Homo sapiens: one gene and its partner. The protein of the gene in region 2 purifies or fractionates together with the protein of the main gene of each other region. This does not show direct contact. Each region holds a gene or a part of one and is shown on either strand. Other genes may lie near its edges.

Region 1 (8,880 bases), on a different chromosome or scaffold from region 2:
AAGTTAAAAAAACCTATTTAGTGCACAGTAACTTGTGTATGTATAGAAGTATGTATCATTATGTATAGATCAATTATATAATGTTGTAAAAATACCATTCTGGATTTTGGAAATTAAGAAGAGCCTTAGCTACTGGGGGATAATCTAATTATTTCCCCCTGGCTTCTGAATATTTTATACATTCTGTTGATTACAGAGGTTCACACAAATCACAAATTAAAGCTGAGCATGCAACATAGAAAGCACAGCATAAAGAGGCAGAATTTGCTCCTCATTAGCCTGGTACATGTATAGATTAAAAGAACACTTCTGCCTAGTGATATAAAAAAAGATTTCAATCAACTGCTTTTTTTTTTTTTTTTTTTTTTGAGACAGAGTCTCGCTCTGTCACCAGGCTGCAGTGCAGTGGTGCCATCTCAGATCACTGCAAGCTCCGTCTCCTGGCTTCATGCCATTCTCCTGACTCAGCCTCCTGAGTAGCTGGGACTACAGGCACCCACCACCACGCCCAGCTAATTTTTTTGTATTTTTGTAGTAGAGACGGGGTCTCACTGTGTTAGCCAGGATGGTCTCGATCTCCTGACCTCGTGATCCACCTGCCTCGGCCTCCCAAAGTGCTGGGATTACAGGCATGAGCCACTGCGCCCGGCCTCAATCAATGTTTATTTGACAAATATATTCCCCATCTTAATGTCTGGATACATTCAATACTTTAAAAGCTGAGGCAACCTGAATGGCTGGTGCTGCCGAGAGCGCTTCGGTGAAACATATCATGCACATGTCATCGGCGTCTTGCTTCAGGCTTGTGGCACTTTTGTCACAGCCGTGTAGACAGGGCAGACAGTGCTCTTCGTTTTTAACACCCCCGCATGGATGGCCACAAGGATGCGTCTTACTACAGGCTATCTTAGCGTATTCCTGTTAAAGATGAATTACAATGTTACACAAGTATGTAAAAAAGCACACATTCTGGTAATTTTCCTTATTATATAAATTTCCAAAGATTACTTTCCCACAGGAAGTATCTATGCAGGCCAAGTAACAACAAAGTAAAGTTATTTCTAATCTTTGTTTGAATATAAATTAGGCTTCTTAACAAAGTTTTTTTTTTTTGATGCGATTTTTAAAAAATGCCACTCTCTATAAAGGGAATGCTGATAAGTGAATTATAATTTCATATTTGTCATCATGCACAGCTATAAAGCAAAAAGTTCCTGGCTGGGAGTCGTGGCTTACACCTGTAATCCCAGCACTTTGGGAGGCTGAGGTGGGCAGATCACGAGATCAGGAGTTTGAGACCAGCCTGACCAATATGGTGAAACCCCATCTCTACTAAAAATACAAAAATTAACCAGGCATGGTGGCGCGCGCCTGTAATCCCAGCTACTTAGGAAGCTGAGGCAGGAGAATCGCTTGAACCCGGGAGGCGGAGGTTGCAGTGAGCCGAGATCGTGCCACTGTACTCCAGCCTGGGCGACACAGCCAGACTCCGTCTCAAAAAAATAAAAAATAAAAAAAGTTCCCCAATGTATAATTTCCCAGTCACCACTCTCCGCATCACCAAAATGCAGATTTTTTTTTTTTTTAAAAAGGTACCTTTGACTCTCTGAGCATATCCACATTCTTATTAATTGAGAAACCAAAAACATTTGGACAACATAGAATATGTTTATATATGTTCAGGATTAAAGAACTCTTAGATGTTGAAAATGTATTTTAAGGAAATAAGTGAATAATGTCTGTAAGAGATAAAGGAAATACAGTTCATAAATTTTTAACTGTTTCTAGTACAAAAGTAGATATTAAATACATATGATCATGGTAACTGAGAAACATACAAAAAGAGTGTGGTTTGGGCTTGAGAGCCTTATTTGACCCATTCTTCAACTTTGGTAAGGCATTTGATGCTTCACATAGGTAATACACTCATTTAGGAAGCTGGAGTGACGCTGAGCTAAAACTCTTTTCTGTATGAAGTAAAGGTGTCACAGGGGAACATGGACAATGGGATGGCCTGTGTCACTATATACTCACCTGGCAATCTGCATCAGAACAAACACTGCCAACAGCAGATAACTCTGTTCCACTCCTGGAACCACAGAAGCGACATGCTTCTGAGCTACTCGTGGTGGGTTTGCCTAGGTTCAAGCAGAAAAATAAAAATCCTTCTTATGGATGTTTTCTAGATATGTTAACAGAACTAAATTTTAAAAAGCAAACTAGGTTTGTATAAGTTGCTATCCTTGGGAAATCAGCCTGACAGTTTTAGAACGGAAGGTTTCTAAGTTGTCCTAATTATAAAGTAAATAATGACACACAAAAAAAGAAATTAAAGACCTATCTGAAGCCAAATACACTCTCGACTAATATTTTTTTTCAGTGAAAGAAACAGACTAGACTTCTAGTCAAGTTACCAGACTGAGCAGCTGTTACAAGCCCCTGACTCCAAATGCACAATACCATAAAAAATATGATAACCAAAAATTAAATAAAAATACACAGAAGTTAGGGAAATCTTTAACTATATATAACAAAATTATAAGGCATGGTATAAAGCCTATCATCAGAGTATGAAACTTGAAAAACAGAATTCCTACCTCAGGAACTCTGCAATTTGAAAAGGAATTTAAATATGTTTGAAATACTTAAAGAAGAAACAGAATCAATAAAACAAGAACAGAGCAATAAGAAAAAGAACGTGAAGATTTGAAAATTACAGACCAAGCTGATTTTTAAACACAGATATAAAAATCTAACTATAATTAATATCAATATATTGAATTCAGCAATATTTACAGAAAAATCTATTTAAAAAGGATGGTTTACAAGGATGGTTTGACATTAGAACATTTATTAATGCAGTATACAGCACTGACAGATTATAGGAGGAAGAAATCAACTATGAGAAAAGAAGGTCATGCTCTTGCAGCATGCAAAGTCACCCTAGAATTAAATTGATTCGGATTTACACCTAACTCCAACACTGGAAGTTCGTGTCAGTCAAATGGCAGACTGCAGATGTGCTGAAAACTGAGAATTTGTAAGATTCAACATAACTTTGAACTAGGAATATACAAGATTTACTTTAGAAAAGCAGCAAAATGAAAACTATGTTTTAGAGATAAAAATACATTTAACATACATAGGTTACCTTTTGTTTTATGTCTATTCATTTTTGTTAATTATTTTATTGCTATCAATGGAAACAGTACCATTCACAACACCTTCAGAAGCATTAGGTCTACAAAAACCTCTAAATATCATAAAATCATACAACCTTATAATAAATAGAGATCTTAGTGATCATCTAGTGCAGCAATTTTTATTGTGGGGCAACAACTAGCAGAACTAGAAGGGAATTATCAATAGAAATGTATTTTATCTATGGAGCCCCATTAGTTGTGATCCTCTCACTTTATAAATGAAGTCAATGAGTTCCAGAGGTTAAGTGACTTGCTCGACACCACACAGCTAGTTAGTGGCAAATCAGGTTTCTTGACTTTTGGTCTAATGCTCTCTTCACCATAGAACACTCTATATATTTAGTAAATATATAGATCAATGATGTCATAATTAAACATCAGAATATCACTCAAAATTATTCACAGTTTAATCAGTTGGCACGGTTTAATCTTTTTTTGTGGGTTTTAAAGGCATGGCTCAATCTTTAAACCTTTTACCTGTGTGTTCTCGGAATTCCACCATTGCCTTCATTGTTTTAGAATCTGCCAGTGCCATCAACCAGAACAATTTGGTTCTACCACAACCTTCATGAAGGTCAACCTTTATAGCTTCTTCTTCTTCTTTGAAGACCTATTATTTCATTAAAGAACAGGGAAAAATATGCTTATTTATCACTCTGAAAGGGAGAGTATAAAATTTAATTATTCAATAATAATAATGGCTTTCATTTAAGCACTCTAAGAAGTTTTGAATATTTCCAATCTTCTCTTTAATCTTCACAGCAGTCCCTTTTTTATAAATGGAGAAATTAAGTGTTTCTAAGGATAAAACAACTTGCTATTTATAGATGGTAAGCGAGACAGCTGTGAACTCAACCAAGGTCTTTGATTCCAAAGTCCACTTTTTCCCCCTACTACACAAAGCCTCTTTCACACATTTATTTCAAAATTCACTGAACATATTTTATGCTCCAGAGACAAAAATCTTCACCTGTCTTTGATGAGTTTTGGTTCTTCGATGAAGGTGAAGGAATCTGTCACAGTCTGTACATAAATTTCCACAGACATTGCATAAAATGATTGCTGCAGTTTCACCATCATCATGGTTATCACACATAGGCTAAAATAAGACATTTCCACGTTACTTAGATTAACAAGCAAGTCTCAGACTCTCATACAAATTGAATATAATTTATTTACAAAAATAAACCGTTATTCGGAAGTCTATTAAGAATTTAGAATCTGAATATTAAACAGAATTATTGCAAATGTACTTAACTATAAAAATCTCTCAAAACTCCAAATCCAATCATTAATGTGCTTTGCAGGTTCAATGATTAATACAATGAACAGGTATACTTTGTTACTTAGAGACTTAAGAAATGTCTGCCCCATTATATATCTAAACATTCTGTATGCCAAAGGAAGAAACTGTTTATTTTTGAAACTTGAACATTAATAAGAAAATGGTGAAAGGGCCTATATAAAGTTTTCCTTTCTAGTGAACTTAAAGATACCCATCAAACCTACTTAAGTATATATGTGAACAGGTGGTGTGTCATGTTGCCTGTGTTATTGCTTTATTTCCTTCCTACCATAAGACTGATTACATTTTAGTAAAATATCTAGTCACTAAATCAGACTCTGGCTAAAAATAAATTTTGATATGATGCAAACATGACTCAGAGAAGAAGAAAGCTCTTTAATATACTTAAATAAAAGCCCCTAAAGTTTCCATATACTATGAAGTAGGGACTCTCTGAAATAGACTTGTGAGATGAACTTGGCCGAAGGGACACAATCTTTCAAGAGATCCACTAACTGTTTATGTTGATGTGTTTTTTGTTTGTTTGTTTGTTTTTAAGCTAAGCTAAAGCTTACTGTAAAGGAAAGCAAGATAAATTCTTACAAAATTCTGATCTTACCATTTGTTTTTGTTGTCCATCCTTTCCCATCCATCTCCCCGAGGAGAGACGATCTACGTGGTCCTGATCAAGAACACATAGGGATGCGAGAGCAAGCCAGAGCTGTTGAAAGGGAAGGCTGTTACACCACTGAATTTTTAGGAAAGACTTATGAAATGCTGACTGTGACACATCACAACAGCTCAATAAATGCTGGCTGATTTTGAAAATACATAGATACTCAGTGGCACTCAAGTCTTCCTGATGTGGTAGCAGGCATACACGATCACTGTCCTATGTGCCATGCACACAGGAGGCACTCAGATATCTACTGAACAAGTGACTGTTTCTCTGATGAACCACCCTGTCTTCTATCTGACAAATAAAATTATCCTTTATTGGTCTACTATGTAAACAACATATGAATAAATGAATTGGCATATTTAATATTTACTACTAATGTCTTCTGAATATTTTTCCATTTAGTATCATTAAATGCCAAAGAAGGTGGTACAGCAACTGCTAAATTGTGTACAGTCCCATGAGTAGTCAGGTACACATTAAATCCTTCTAGATAATAAAAGTTCCTCAGAAGTCTTTGTTGCCCCTTGTTGCCCCAGAAAGCCTAATACTATACTTGGTGCACTTTGTCAGAAATACATACATGTCTAAAAGCTTTAGAAAACTGTTCTCCAAAATAGGGCCGGGCACAGTGGCACATGCCTGTAATCCCAGCACTTTGGGAGGCCAAGGTGGGTGGATCACCTGAGGTCAGGGGGTTATGACCAGCCTGACTAACATGGTGAAACCCAGTCTTTACTAAATACAAAAAAAATTAGCCAGGTGTGGTGGTATATGCCTGTAATCCGAGCTACTTGGGAGGCTGAGACAGGAGAATCGCTTGTACCTGCAGGCGGAGGCTGCAGTGAGCCAAGATCGTACCATTGCACTCCAGCCTGGGCATCAAGAGTGAAACTCTGTCTCAAAAAAAAAAAAAAAAAAAAAAAGACAACTGTTTTCAGAAATAGTTAAAAATTTCTGAGGCTTAAAGGGTAAGCTTCAGTTTTATATAGAATGATATATCCCCTCATTAATGAAGAATAGAAAATGACTTAACTAGCTCAACTCTAAGAAGTGCATGTGAGTGTTATTGGATACAGAAAGCAAGAGATGTTAAAATAGGGACAGAAAAATAGAAAAAGAAATAATGCATGCAAGGAGGAAGGGGAATGCAGACTGAAAGAAAGCAACACATGAGTGGTAGGAAAGGATTACTGTCAAAAATACCTATTTCAGGTGTCACAGTCAATAATAGCAAGATAGCATAAATTGACTTTTTCCGCCCTAGGGATATATAGTTTATCTTCTTCAGATTTCTGAGGATTAACCTAAGCAATTTTTACCAGCATTCACTTCTTCCTAACGTTGTCAGACTGCCCTCCTTCAAGGAAATCTCAAATCTCTTCTGGAAGTATATGGGACATGAAATCTAGCAGGTTAAAACTTACTATAAATGTGTCATCTGAAGAATGCAATCTCATTTCCTCAAAGATTTCCACCCTGACCCTGCCCTGGACAAGCACTTCTTGCTTTTTAGAAGTAAGACCTATAAATCCTGTAAGTAAGTTACAGGGCTCTACATTAGGAACAACCAGGCATAGGCAGGGGTCTTGTCTCCAAAGGACCTTCGGTCTATCACAGCATAATGCTGGCACTAAACTTACTGTGGTAAACTACAGCAAACAGATCATTAGAAAGACAACACGCAAACAATGTACAATGTAATTAGCCTTTTCTAACCAGTGTACCCTTGGCTTCCTAAACAATAACAAAAACAAGTGACACAGAACACATAACAGTGAGAAGTAACGACTAGTTCATAATATAAAAGCCCTTTATACTTTTTCAATAAATACGGTATTTGGTTAAAAAATAATTATGTTGACTTAGTGATTAAAATTTGTTTAAATCTATTACTAAAAAAGAACACGCAATGATACACACCAAATTTAAAACAAAACAAAACAAAGCAAAACCTACTCTAGTTGTTGCAATACATCTCACTGGAGACCTAAATTCTTCTTCCATCTTGGTCAAGGCAATGATGGTTTCTGCAATAGCATTTTTTGTCACTCGGGACCAAGCTTCTGACAGATGACCCTATTGAGCAGAACAGAGTATTTTAATAAGTGACCAGAAATGTATTACCATAGTAAACTCTTTTTTCTTAAATAACATCTCCTATCAAAGGAAATATTTGTTTTTAGTGAGACCATGGAATTTTAGATTATGGGCACAAACTTTTGAACTAAAATTTCTTCGTGATCCTATGGAAAATTCAACTTCTAATCATCATTTTGATATTTAAAAATAAATAAATAAAAAATTAAGTTCTCAATACTCTTTTCCTGGAAATCAAGGGCAATTACTCTCACATCTGATAAAAACATAACAGAAATACTAAGGTTATCTATGTTTGAGAAGTTTGTCACTTAGCATAAAATTTACACAGTGAAGCTAACTGCTTTAGATGAGTATTACAGGAACCTAAAATATAAACAGGTTCAAACTGCAACTACCTTTATTTGCTACCTTGATTTGTAATGAACAAACATTTAACTATCATATAATTTAGGTGTTCCTAAATATTACTCCTAAATATTTTAATTCAATGAACACCCTGAGAAAGTCTGTTTGCCACAGAGGTTGAGAAAATATCCACGCTGTTGGGAAAAGTGATAGAACTTCATCTTTCCCCCAGAAAATCCTCCCACTTCTCATATCCACATGATTTAAGGGGCAGTTCAATTCCTCCTCCTTCTCCAAGCTGCCTTCTATTCCTTCTGACTCTACATTCCATACTATCTTGTCCTTCTCAGGCTGCCCTCCTAGAAATAATACAATGTGTGGAAAATGACAAGGAGCAACTAATCAGAGCCAGGCATTCTGTAAAGTAACTCCCTGTCCTCCACACTCCCAGATCTCCTTTGGAAGCCACCATCTTAAGACAGAGGGTATATGACATTAATAAAGAAGAATAAAGGGTTTAAAAACCATGAGGACTGAGGAGAATGAGAAACTTCCACTTTCGAGAGCTCTCTTCCTCTTTTTTTCCTTTAGGTTTTTTGAATCAAGTTCTTTCTTAGGGTCTGAAAGAGCATATTTTATTTTATTAGATTTTAAAGTCACGTAACAATTCCCACACAAATTAACTGGAAAATTTGAAATGAACATGGTTTACATAAATGACAAATTATCACTCACTGAAAAGACAAACAGCATGATAGTTAACATACTACAAATAGTCTTTAAGTAAAGTTACACTAATCTACATCTCCTATCAATTCAGCAGAGTAAGCTGTTTTGTGTCAGCTTCCTGCCGCACTTCACTGCCAAAACAGAAGAATGGGAACTTACTGCTGCCATATCCTTGATAAGTTTAATGATGATCTCTGAGATCTGGGTAGGGGTTGAGCCCTTCATCCACCAATGACTTTCACCTCGTCGGAGATAACTACAAGAAAAATTAGCACTTAAAAAGCCAATAAATTATCAGTAGTAGTAACAAATGAAAAAGATGAAAATGTTATTTCAGAATGCAGCATTTTAGATTTTTAAGTGACTGAATCAATTAAAACATTTAAAAAGAAAATTCATCAAACCATTACCCCAAATCCCAAGACAGCAGTTAAGGTTATTTGAGTTCCCTTTCAAGTATTTCTCTGTTTGCACATTATTTCTGTGTGCATCTTTTAGAAGTACAGTCCAGGGACCACACACGACTTATTTCTAGG
Region 2 (9,563 bases):
CAACCTCTGCCTCCCGGGTTCAAATGATTCTCTTGCCTCAGCTTCTTGAGTAGCTGAGATTACAGGCATGCGCCGCCATGCCCAGCTAATTTGGTATTTTTAGTAGAGACGGGTTTTCTCCATGTTGGTCAGGCTGGTGTCGAACTCCTGACCTCAGGAGTTCCCTTCCCTTCCCTTCCTTTCTTTCTCTCTTTCTCTCTTTCTCTCTCCCTCTCCCTCTCTCTCTCTTTTTTTGACTGAGTCTTTCTCTGTTGCCCAGGCTGGAGTGAGGTGGCACAGTCTCGGCTCACTGCAACCTGCACCTCCCAGGTTCAAGTGATTCTCCTGCCTCAGCTTCCCAAGTAGCTGGGATTACAGGCACCCGCTACCACACCTGGCTAATTTTTTGTATTTTTAGTAGAGATGGGGTTTCACCATGTTGGCCAGGATGGTCTCGATCTCCTGACCTCATGATCTGCCCGCCTCAGGTGATCCGCCCACCTTGGCCTCCCAAAGTGCTGGGATTACAGGTGTGAGCCACCGTGCCTGGCCTGGAATGACCTTTTGAAAACACATTTATGTTATCAGCTAGGTCACAACACCTTGCAAGGCTGGAGCATGGATCTTGTCTTTTTTTTTTTTTGAGCATGGATCTTTAGAAGACTGTCTATGTTCTGAATCAGTGTTCAATACATAGGGCTGTTTCTTCCACAGCCAGGATTCATAGGTCCAGGAATTAAAGGATGGAAATGGGAATAGCACAATGCACAATTACCACTAGAGACCCCTGGCCACTTTGGGATCCTCAGGGCTCTGTGTCGGCAGGCGAAGAAAGAAGTTACTGTGCTGGCTGGGGTGATTGATCCTAACTAGCAATGAAAAATTGGAGGCCGGGCATGGTGGCTCATGCCTGTAATCCCAGCACTTTGGAAGGCCAAGGCAGGCAGATCACCTGAGGTCAGGAGTTCACGACCAGCCTGGCCAACATGGTGAAACCCCATCTCTACTAAATACAAAAATTAGCCAGCCATGGTGGCGCATGCCTGTAATCCCAGCTACTCAAGAGGCTGAGGCAGGAGAATCATTTGAACCTGGAAGCCAAAGGTTGCGGTGAGCCGAGATCATGCCATTGCACCTGTAATCCCAGCTACTCAGGAGGCTGAGGCAGGAAAACGGCTTGAACTGGGGAGGCGGAGGTTGCAGTGAGCCAAGATCGCACCACTGCACTCCAGCCTGGGCGACAGAGCAAGACTCCATCTCAAAAAAAAAAACAAACAACAACAACAATAAATAAATAAATAAAAATACAAAAATTAGCTAGGCATGGTGGCGCACACCTCTATTTCCAGCTACTCAGGAGGCTGAAGCAGGAGAATCGCTTGCACCCAGGAGACCAAGGTTGCAGTGAGCTGAGATTGCACCATTGCACTTCAGCCTGGGTGATAGAGTGAGACTCCGTCAAAAAAAAAAAAAAAAGAAAAAGAAAAATTGGAATATTACTTCACAATGGAGGTAAGTATGAGCATATCAAGGAGATTCCTTGATATACTAAGGAAGATTCCTTAGGTCATCTCAGTATTACTGTGACCTGTGATTAAGGTCAATGGAAAACTAGAACAAAACAATCCAGGACTACTAATGGCCCAGACCCTTCAGAAATGAAGCTTTGAGTCAGTCCATCAGGTAAAGAAACAGGTCAACACCTGTTAAGGTGCTTGCTGAAGGCAAAGGGAATAGGATAGTAGTAGAAAACGGTAGCTATTAATACCAGCTATGACCACGTGACCAGTTATGGACCCTAGGACTATGATTGCCATGAGTATTTCCTCATTTTGTTATTTATATGTTTATGTGTGTGTATATCAAGCAAATATCTTCATTTTCTTTTCTCTTTTATTCCCTCATAATGTAACATAAGATGTATTAACTTTATGTCATAGTTTTAAGTATTATTAATTTTGCATCATAATATCTGAGTTATGGGATATGAAGAAGAGTAAACATCACTCAAGGATTTTACCTCCTCTTCTGAGGAAGGGATTAGTGTTTTATTTTTCTTTTTGAGACCGGGTCTTGCTCTGTCACCCAGGCTGGGGTGCAGCATCAATGCAAAGCTTCGAAATGCAGGCTCAAGTGTTCCTCCCACCCCAGCCTCCTGAGTAGCTGGGACTACAGGTGTGTGCCACCATGCCCAGCTAATTTTTTTTTTTTTTTGAGACAGAGTCTTGCTCTGTCGCCAAACTGCAGTGCAGTGGCACAATCTCTGGCTCACTGCAACCTCCGCCTCCCGGGTTCCAGCAATTCTCCTGCCTTAGCCTCCAGAGTAGCTGGGACTACAGGCGTGTGCCACCACGCCCAGCTCATTTTTATATTTTTATGAGGGGTTTCACCATGTTTGCCAGGATGGTCTCGATCTCTTCACCTCGTGATCCGCCCGCCTCGGCCTCCCAAAGTGCTGGGATTATAGGCGTTAGTCACTGCGCCCGGCCTGTAATGGTTAATTTTATGTGTCAACCTCACTGAGCCACGGAGGGCCCAGACATTTGGTCAAACATTAATCTGGAGGTCAGGCACAGTAGCTTGTGCCTGTAATCCCAGCACTTTGGTTGGCTGAGGTAGGAGGATCGCTTGAAGCCAGGAATTTAAGACCGGCCAGGGCATCATAGCAAGACCCAGTCGCTACAAAAAAATTAAAATAAAAAAAAATAGTTGGCTGGGCACGGTGGCTCACGCCTGTAATCCCAGCACTTTGGGAGGCCAAGGTGGGTGGATCACCTGAGGTTAGGAGTTCCAGGAGTTCGAGACCAGCTGGCCAACATGGTGAAACCCCGTCTCTACTAAAAATACAAAAATTAGCTAGGCGTGGTGGTGGATGCCTGTAATCTCAGCTACTCCGGAGGCTGAGTCAGGAGAATTGCTGAAACCTGCGAGGCGGAGGTTGCAGTGAGCCAAGATCATGCCATTGCACTCCAGCCCAGGCTGACAACAGCAACAGCAAGACTATGACTAAAAAAAAAAAAAAACACTGAGTATGGTGGTGCACACCTGTAGTCCCAGCTACTCAGAAGGCTGAGGTGGGAGGATCCCTAAAGTCCAGGAGTTCGAGGTTGCACTGAGCTACAATTGCATCACTGTACTCCAGCCTGGGTGACAAAATGAGTTTTCTGTCTAAAGAAAAATAAACAAAAAAAAATTATTCTGGTTTTGTCTGTGAGGGTGTTTCCAGATGAGATTAATATTTGAATTGGATTGAGAATTAATTAGTGGTAGATTGAGTAAAGCAGATTGCCCTTGTAACATGGGTGAGCCTCATCCAATCATTGAAGACATGAATAAACCAAAAAGGCTGAGTAAAAGCAGCTCCTCCTGACTAACTGCCTAAGCTGAGGCAGTCTTTTCTGGCCTTCTGACTCAGACTGAAACTCAGACTCTTCTTGGACCTTGAGCTGGCTGGCTTTTAGTCTAGAACTACACATCGGTTCTCCTAAATCTCCAGGTTGCTAATTGCAGATCTTGGGACTTCTGAGCCTCCAATAATAACACCGATTGCTTATAATAAATAAATACACACATCCTATTGGTTCTGTTTTTCTGGAGAGTTCTGAGTAATGTATTATATTTCATATTTAAAACAACTTTATTGGGGCACATGTTGCATATCACATAATTCGCTTTTTTTTTTTTTTTTTAAATACGGAGTTTCGCTCTTGTTGCCCAGGCTGGAGTGCAATGGCACGATCTCAGCTCACCGCAACCTCCGCCTCCTGGGTCCAAGCGATTCTCCTGCCTCAGCCTCCTGAGTAGCTGGGATTACAGGCATGTGCCACCACGCCCAGCTAATTTTGTCTTTTTAGTAGCGATGGGGTTTCTCCATGTTGGTCAGGCTGGTCCCGAACTCCCGACCTTAGGTGATCCAACATGGTGAAACCCCATCTCTACTAAAAATACAAAAAATTAGCCGGGTGTGGTAGCGGGTGCCTGTAATCCCAGCTACTTGGGAAGCTGAGGCAGGAGAATCACTTGAACCTGGGAGGTGCAGGTTGCAGTGAGCCGAGACTGTGCCACCTCACTCCAGCCTGGGCAACAGAGAAAGACTCAGTCAAAAAAGGAGAGAGAGAGGGAGAGGGAGAGAGAAAGAGAGAAAGAAAGGAAGGGAAGGGAAGGGAGAAGAAAAGAAAGTAATCTACTTTCTGTCTTTATAGCTTGGCCTTTTCCGGATATTTCATATAAATGGAACCATACAATATGTAATCACTTGTGTCTGGCTTATTTCACTGAGCATAGGGGTTTTTTTGGCCGAACATGGTGGCTCACGCCTGTAATCCCAGCACTTTGGGAGGCCGAGGTTGGTGGATCATTTGAGGTCAGGAGTTTGAGACCAACCTGGCCAAGATGATGAAACCCCGTCTCTACTAAAAATACAAAAATTAGGCAGGCATGGTGGTGACACCTGTAGTCCAGCTACTCGGGAGGCTGAGGCAGGAGAATTTCTTGAACCCGGGCGGTGGAGGTTGCAGTGAGCCGAGATCACGCACTGCACTCCAGCCTGGGTGACAGAGTGAGACTCCAGTCTTAAAAAAAAAAAAAGGGTTTGTTTGTTTTGTTTTTGTTGTTGTTTCTTTTTGATACAGGGCTGCTCTGTCACCCAACTGGAGTGCAGTGGCTTGACTATGGCTTGACCTCTGGGGCTCAGGTGATCTTCTCACCTCAGCCTCCTGGGGTAGCTGGGACAACAGGTACGCACCACCACGCCCAGCTAACTTCTTTTGTATTTTTTGTGGAGAAGGGGTTTCGCCACATTGCTCAAGCTAGTCTCGATCTCTTGGGCTAAAACGATCCTCCCGCCTCGGCCTCCCAAAGTGCTGGGATTACAGGTGTGAGGCACAGCGCCCAGCCTGCATATTCTTTTTGAGGTTCATCCACATTGTAGCTGGTATCCATAGTTTGTTCTGAATAATATTCCATTGTATGGACATAGCATATTTTGTCTACTCATTCACATGTTAATGGACATTTAGGTTGTCTCCAATTTTTCCAACTGGGCTATTATGAGTGAGACAGATAAGAAAATTCCTGTGCAAGTTTTTGTGTGTATACATGCTTTCATTTCTCTTAGGCAGATCCCTAAGAGTGAAATTATTGGGTCACATGGTAAATTTATGTTTAACATTTTAAAAAATTGCCAAACTGTTTTCCAAAGTGGCTACACCATTTTACATTTCTACCACCAATATATGAGGGTTCTCGTTTCTCCACATTCTCTCCAACACTTATCTTTTTAAAAAAGGTTTTTGTTGTTGTTGTTGTTTGCAGTTTTTACAGTTTTATTTAAACAGAAAACATACACATGAGCTGTCTACTCATTTTCTTTGCTGCGCAGCCTGGGATTGGGGTTGGTGACTCTGACGGCCAGCTGGGCAGCTCTTTTCCACGATGGCTTTGCGGTTCTTGGAGGAAACATTGTGAGCGATCTCAGCACAGTAAGATTTGTTGCACAACAGCAGCACTTCCAGCTCCTTGACGTGTGGACCAGGAATTTCCGGAAGCCACTGGGCAGCATGTGCTTTGTTTTCTTGTTGCTCCCATAATCAATGTTGGGCATCAAGATCTAACCCTTGAACCTTCCACGAACCCTGTTGTCAATACCTCTGGGTTTCCGCCGGTTACGCTTAATTTTGACATATCGGTCAGACTGGTGCCGGATAAACTTCTTGGTTCTCTTTTTGACGATCTTGGGCTTCCCAAGGGTTCTGAGGACGGTTTATAAAAGTGCACTGAGGGGAGGCTGAGACAGGAGAATTGCTTGAACCCGGGAGGCGGAGGTTGCAGTGAGCCGAGATCGTGCCCATCCTAGGCGACAGAGAGAGACTCTATGTCAAAAATAAATAAATAAATAAATAAATAAATAAATAAATAAATAAATAAAATGCACTGAGGAGACAGATTTTTGAGAGTTAAAAGGACCCTCTCAAAAACCGACCGCGGTCCTCCACTGGGTAGGGGGCGCTCCAAGACAGGGACTCTTCTAGCCTGTTGCCTCTCCATGTTAGCGATATCCTCGTTGCTAGGAGACTAGACGCGTCTTACAGTGGGAGAGCTCAGCCTCACTGATAGCCGGGGATCTCTCCTGTTCGAGGGCTGAGATCTCCGGTCCCACAACCGCCCACAACCAGGGGCACTTCTGGAAGTCCCCTTTCTAGGGACATTTTTCTTCTAAGCTCTGTAACGCGGGCCGAGGCAGACCGAGGCTTCTTTCCCGGATCCAATCCCCTGCCCCCATGCCTAAGAAAGAAAAAATGGCCAAGACGCCCCTGTCCGATGAGAAGCAGCTGCTTCTGTTTCAGCAGAAGTTGCTGGCAGAGGAGGAGATGGCCAAAAAGAAGGAGAGGCTCCTCAGCCAGTTCTTGAAGGTGATGGCCTTTTGCATTATGTCCTGCTCAACCCCATCCACCCCCTGCCCTGGCCCTGTCACTGAGGAAACCTCATTTTCATCCTGACCTCCCCTCCTCCGGAAATCCTGAGACCCAGATATACTTAGATTTCAGGCAACATTGTTTGGGAGGCGGGGGTGTTCTCTGCGAAGCACGGAGGGGGTGCGTGGTATACGGCTTGGCAATCTTTACTGAATCCCAGAACTGGGACCGTAGGTCCTGTCAGCTGTTCCAGCTGTCTGGAATGCTGATATTCTCCCTGGAGATAGGTCATTACAAACAACATCCTACTCTGATGCTCCCACCCTGAAGGAAATTCACCCTTGCCCTCCCTAAATGCCATCAGGCCGTTCCCATCGAAAAGGGGTAAGGTGTCAGCTGATAAATTAAGAGTGATCTTGTTTGTTGTACTGAAAGGCCCTGACTTCCTGGAGGTATATTTATTCCTTCACACAGGACAAGCTGGCCAAGGAGGAACACAACAGTGCTCTGAACCTTAATAAGATTAACACACAGTGGAGAACTGTCCTTCGGGAAGTCAAGACCAGAGAACTTCATAAGGACATTGAGATCCTCAGCCAAACATTTGAACGAGTGGTGGACTGTAAGGACAATGTCATCAAGGTAGGCACTCTTTCCAAGGAAACCTTGAGTATGGCTTCCTGACCTCTTAATAGAATGAGCCTAGTGAATCCATCTTAAAGCCCTCACAAGACACAGGCTGTGAGAAAGCCAGGCTATTGGTAATAATGGTTTTCACAGAAATAAAAAATAGAATATTGGGCTTTCATCCCTCTCTCCCTTAGAGGACCCACTCTTCTTGTCATCTATTGCCCAAAACCAGTACTATCCAATAGTAGAGTCATAAGGCACAGTAGACATCACCCAGTGACTTGAAATGAGTCCCACACCTTCATTTCAATGTCAGAAGGCTCAGTTCCAGAGGGGAACTGACTTGCCCAAGGTCACATAGCTAGTCAGTGAGAGAACCAGGACTCCAGCATGTGTTTATTGATTCCCACTGCAGTGCTCCATTCAACTAAATTGTTTGGCCTCTTGATTCAACTTCAGTGGCCCTGGATAAGGTTGAGAAGATCTCCATGGGTAAGAGCAGTTCTGGATTTCTAAGCAATTCAATCAGCCATCCTTATGCTCTTGGGAGGTTCTTGAGTTCTTGATTCCATCCTATCTTTTCTTCTAAGGGATTTTCTGTACCCCTTCTTTTGTCTTACTTTTAATATTCTGCCTCCATTTACTGCCTTCTCCTTAGTCTTTTCCATTATTTATTTATTTATTTATTTGACATGGAGTCTTGCTCTGTTGCCAGGCTGGAGTGCAGTGGCACAATCTCGGCTCAGTGCAACCTCTGCCTCCCAGGTTCAAGTGATTCTTCTGCCTCAGCCTCCCGAGTAGCTGTGACTACAGGCATGTGCCACCATGCCTGGCTAATTTTTGTATTTTTAGTTGAGATGGGGGTTTCACCATGTTGGCCAGGATGGTCTCGATCTCCTGACCTTGTGACCCACCCGCCTTGGCCTCCCAAAGTGCTGGGATTACAGGCGTGAGCCACTGCACCCAGCCAGAGTCTTTTCCATTTTCAACAAAACAAAGCCCACAGTAACAGCAAAATATACATTGCCAACATGGTATTCCCCCTCTAGAAAACACACATTTCTCTTTCATAGCCTAATCCCTGGGGAAAGAGCTCAGCAGACCCTGGGCAGCTTCCAGAGATAAATATTAAGAGTCCTCAAATTTGCAATAACCATTATTCATTAGAAGTCCACATACCCCACCAGTTACACCTTATGGATTTTTTTTTTTTTTTTTTGAGGCAGAGTTTCACTCCTGTTGCCCAGGCTGGAGTGCAATGGCGCAGTCTTGGCTCACTGCAACCTCCGCCTCCCGAGTTCAGCCTCCTGAGTAGCTGGGATTACAGGCATGTGCCACCACGCCCACTAATTTTGTATTTTTAGTAGAGATGGGGTTTCTTCATGTCGGTTAGGCTGGTCTTAAACTCCCGACCTCAGGTGATCCGCCCGCCTCAGTCTCCCAAAGTGCTGGGATTACAGGCATGAGCCACCACGCCCAGCCACTGAGGAGTTTCACTCTTGTCACCAGGCTGGAGTACAGTGGCGCGATCTCGGCTCACTGCAACCTCTGCCTCCTGGGTTCAAGCGATTCTCCTGCCTCAACCTCCTGAATAGCTGGGATTACAGGCGCCCACCACCAAGCCCAGGTAATTTTTGTATTTTTAGTGGAGACGGGATTTCACCATGTTGGCCAGGCTGGTCTGGAACTCCTGACCTTAGGTGATCCACCTGCCTCGGCCTCCCAAAGTGCTGGGATTACAGACGTTAGCCACCGCGCCCAGCCCATACCTTATGGATTTTTAAGAGGCTTTTTCAGACACTTATTGGAAGTTATCAAACACTTGATAAGAGGGCCAGGCACGGTGGCTCAAGCCTGTAATCCCAGCACTTTGGGAGGCTGAGGCAGGCGGATCACGAGGTCAGGAGATCGAGACCATCCTGGCTAACATGGTGAAACCCCATCTCTACTAAAAATACAAAAAATTAGCCAGGCGTGGTGGCGGGCACCTGTAGTCCCAGCTACTCGGGAGGCTGAGGCGGGAGAATGGCGTGAACCCGGGAGGTGGAGCTTGCAGTGAGCAGAGATTGTGCCACTGCACTCCAGCCTGGGTGACAGAGCGAGACTCCGTCTCAAAAAAAACAAAACAAAACAAAAAAACACTTGATAAGAACAGCAGTGTTCATTGCCTAGTGTTCCATTATTGGAATGCTAAGTTTGTGGGAGTTATGTATCTCGTACTGTTCAAGGTCATCGCCAAGATCTGATTTTTCACAAAAAATATTTGCAACCTCAGGCATGAATGGGTTAAGGGAAGCTGAGTAGTTGGCCAGGTTCACCCCGAGACAATTAACTTCTTCCTACACAGCAGCCTTGCAGCTTATGATAACAGTTCTTGCTTAGGTAAATCACACACTGTTAATATTAACCACCTTCAGGGTCATTCCTGAATGAGACTACACATATTAAATGTGGAAATGTTAGTGATCCTCACTATCTCTACTTCTTCACTTCCATTTTACCCTGTATCCCACAGCATCTGATTTCTACCCTTCTCTAGGA

Evidence for each region.
Region 1: the proteins of DRC2 (region 2) and MYCBP2 purify together in Homo sapiens (affinity purification with mass spectrometry; 2 studies listed by BioGRID and IntAct, with this or other methods). This does not show direct contact.

Annotation. Positions count from the first base shown.
Region 1 is NC_000013.11:77,057,489-77,066,368, forward strand, and holds part of MYCBP2 (E3 ubiquitin-protein ligase MYCBP2), read right to left. Parts: intron 8,601-8,880; coding exon 8,504-8,600; intron 7,247-8,503; coding exon 7,127-7,246; intron 5,210-7,126; coding exon 5,108-5,209; intron 4,303-5,107; coding exon 4,174-4,302; intron 3,814-4,173; coding exon 3,681-3,813; intron 2,139-3,680; coding exon 2,035-2,138; intron 919-2,034; coding exon 730-918; intron 1-729. UniProt on the Homo sapiens protein: Atypical E3 ubiquitin-protein ligase which specifically mediates ubiquitination of threonine and serine residues on target proteins, instead of ubiquitinating lysine residues.
Region 2 is NC_000012.12:48,898,080-48,907,642, forward strand, and holds the start of DRC2 (dynein regulatory complex subunit 2), read left to right. Parts: upstream 1-6,053; 5' UTR 6,054-6,257; coding exon 6,258-6,389; intron 6,390-6,866; coding exon 6,867-7,034; intron 7,035-9,563.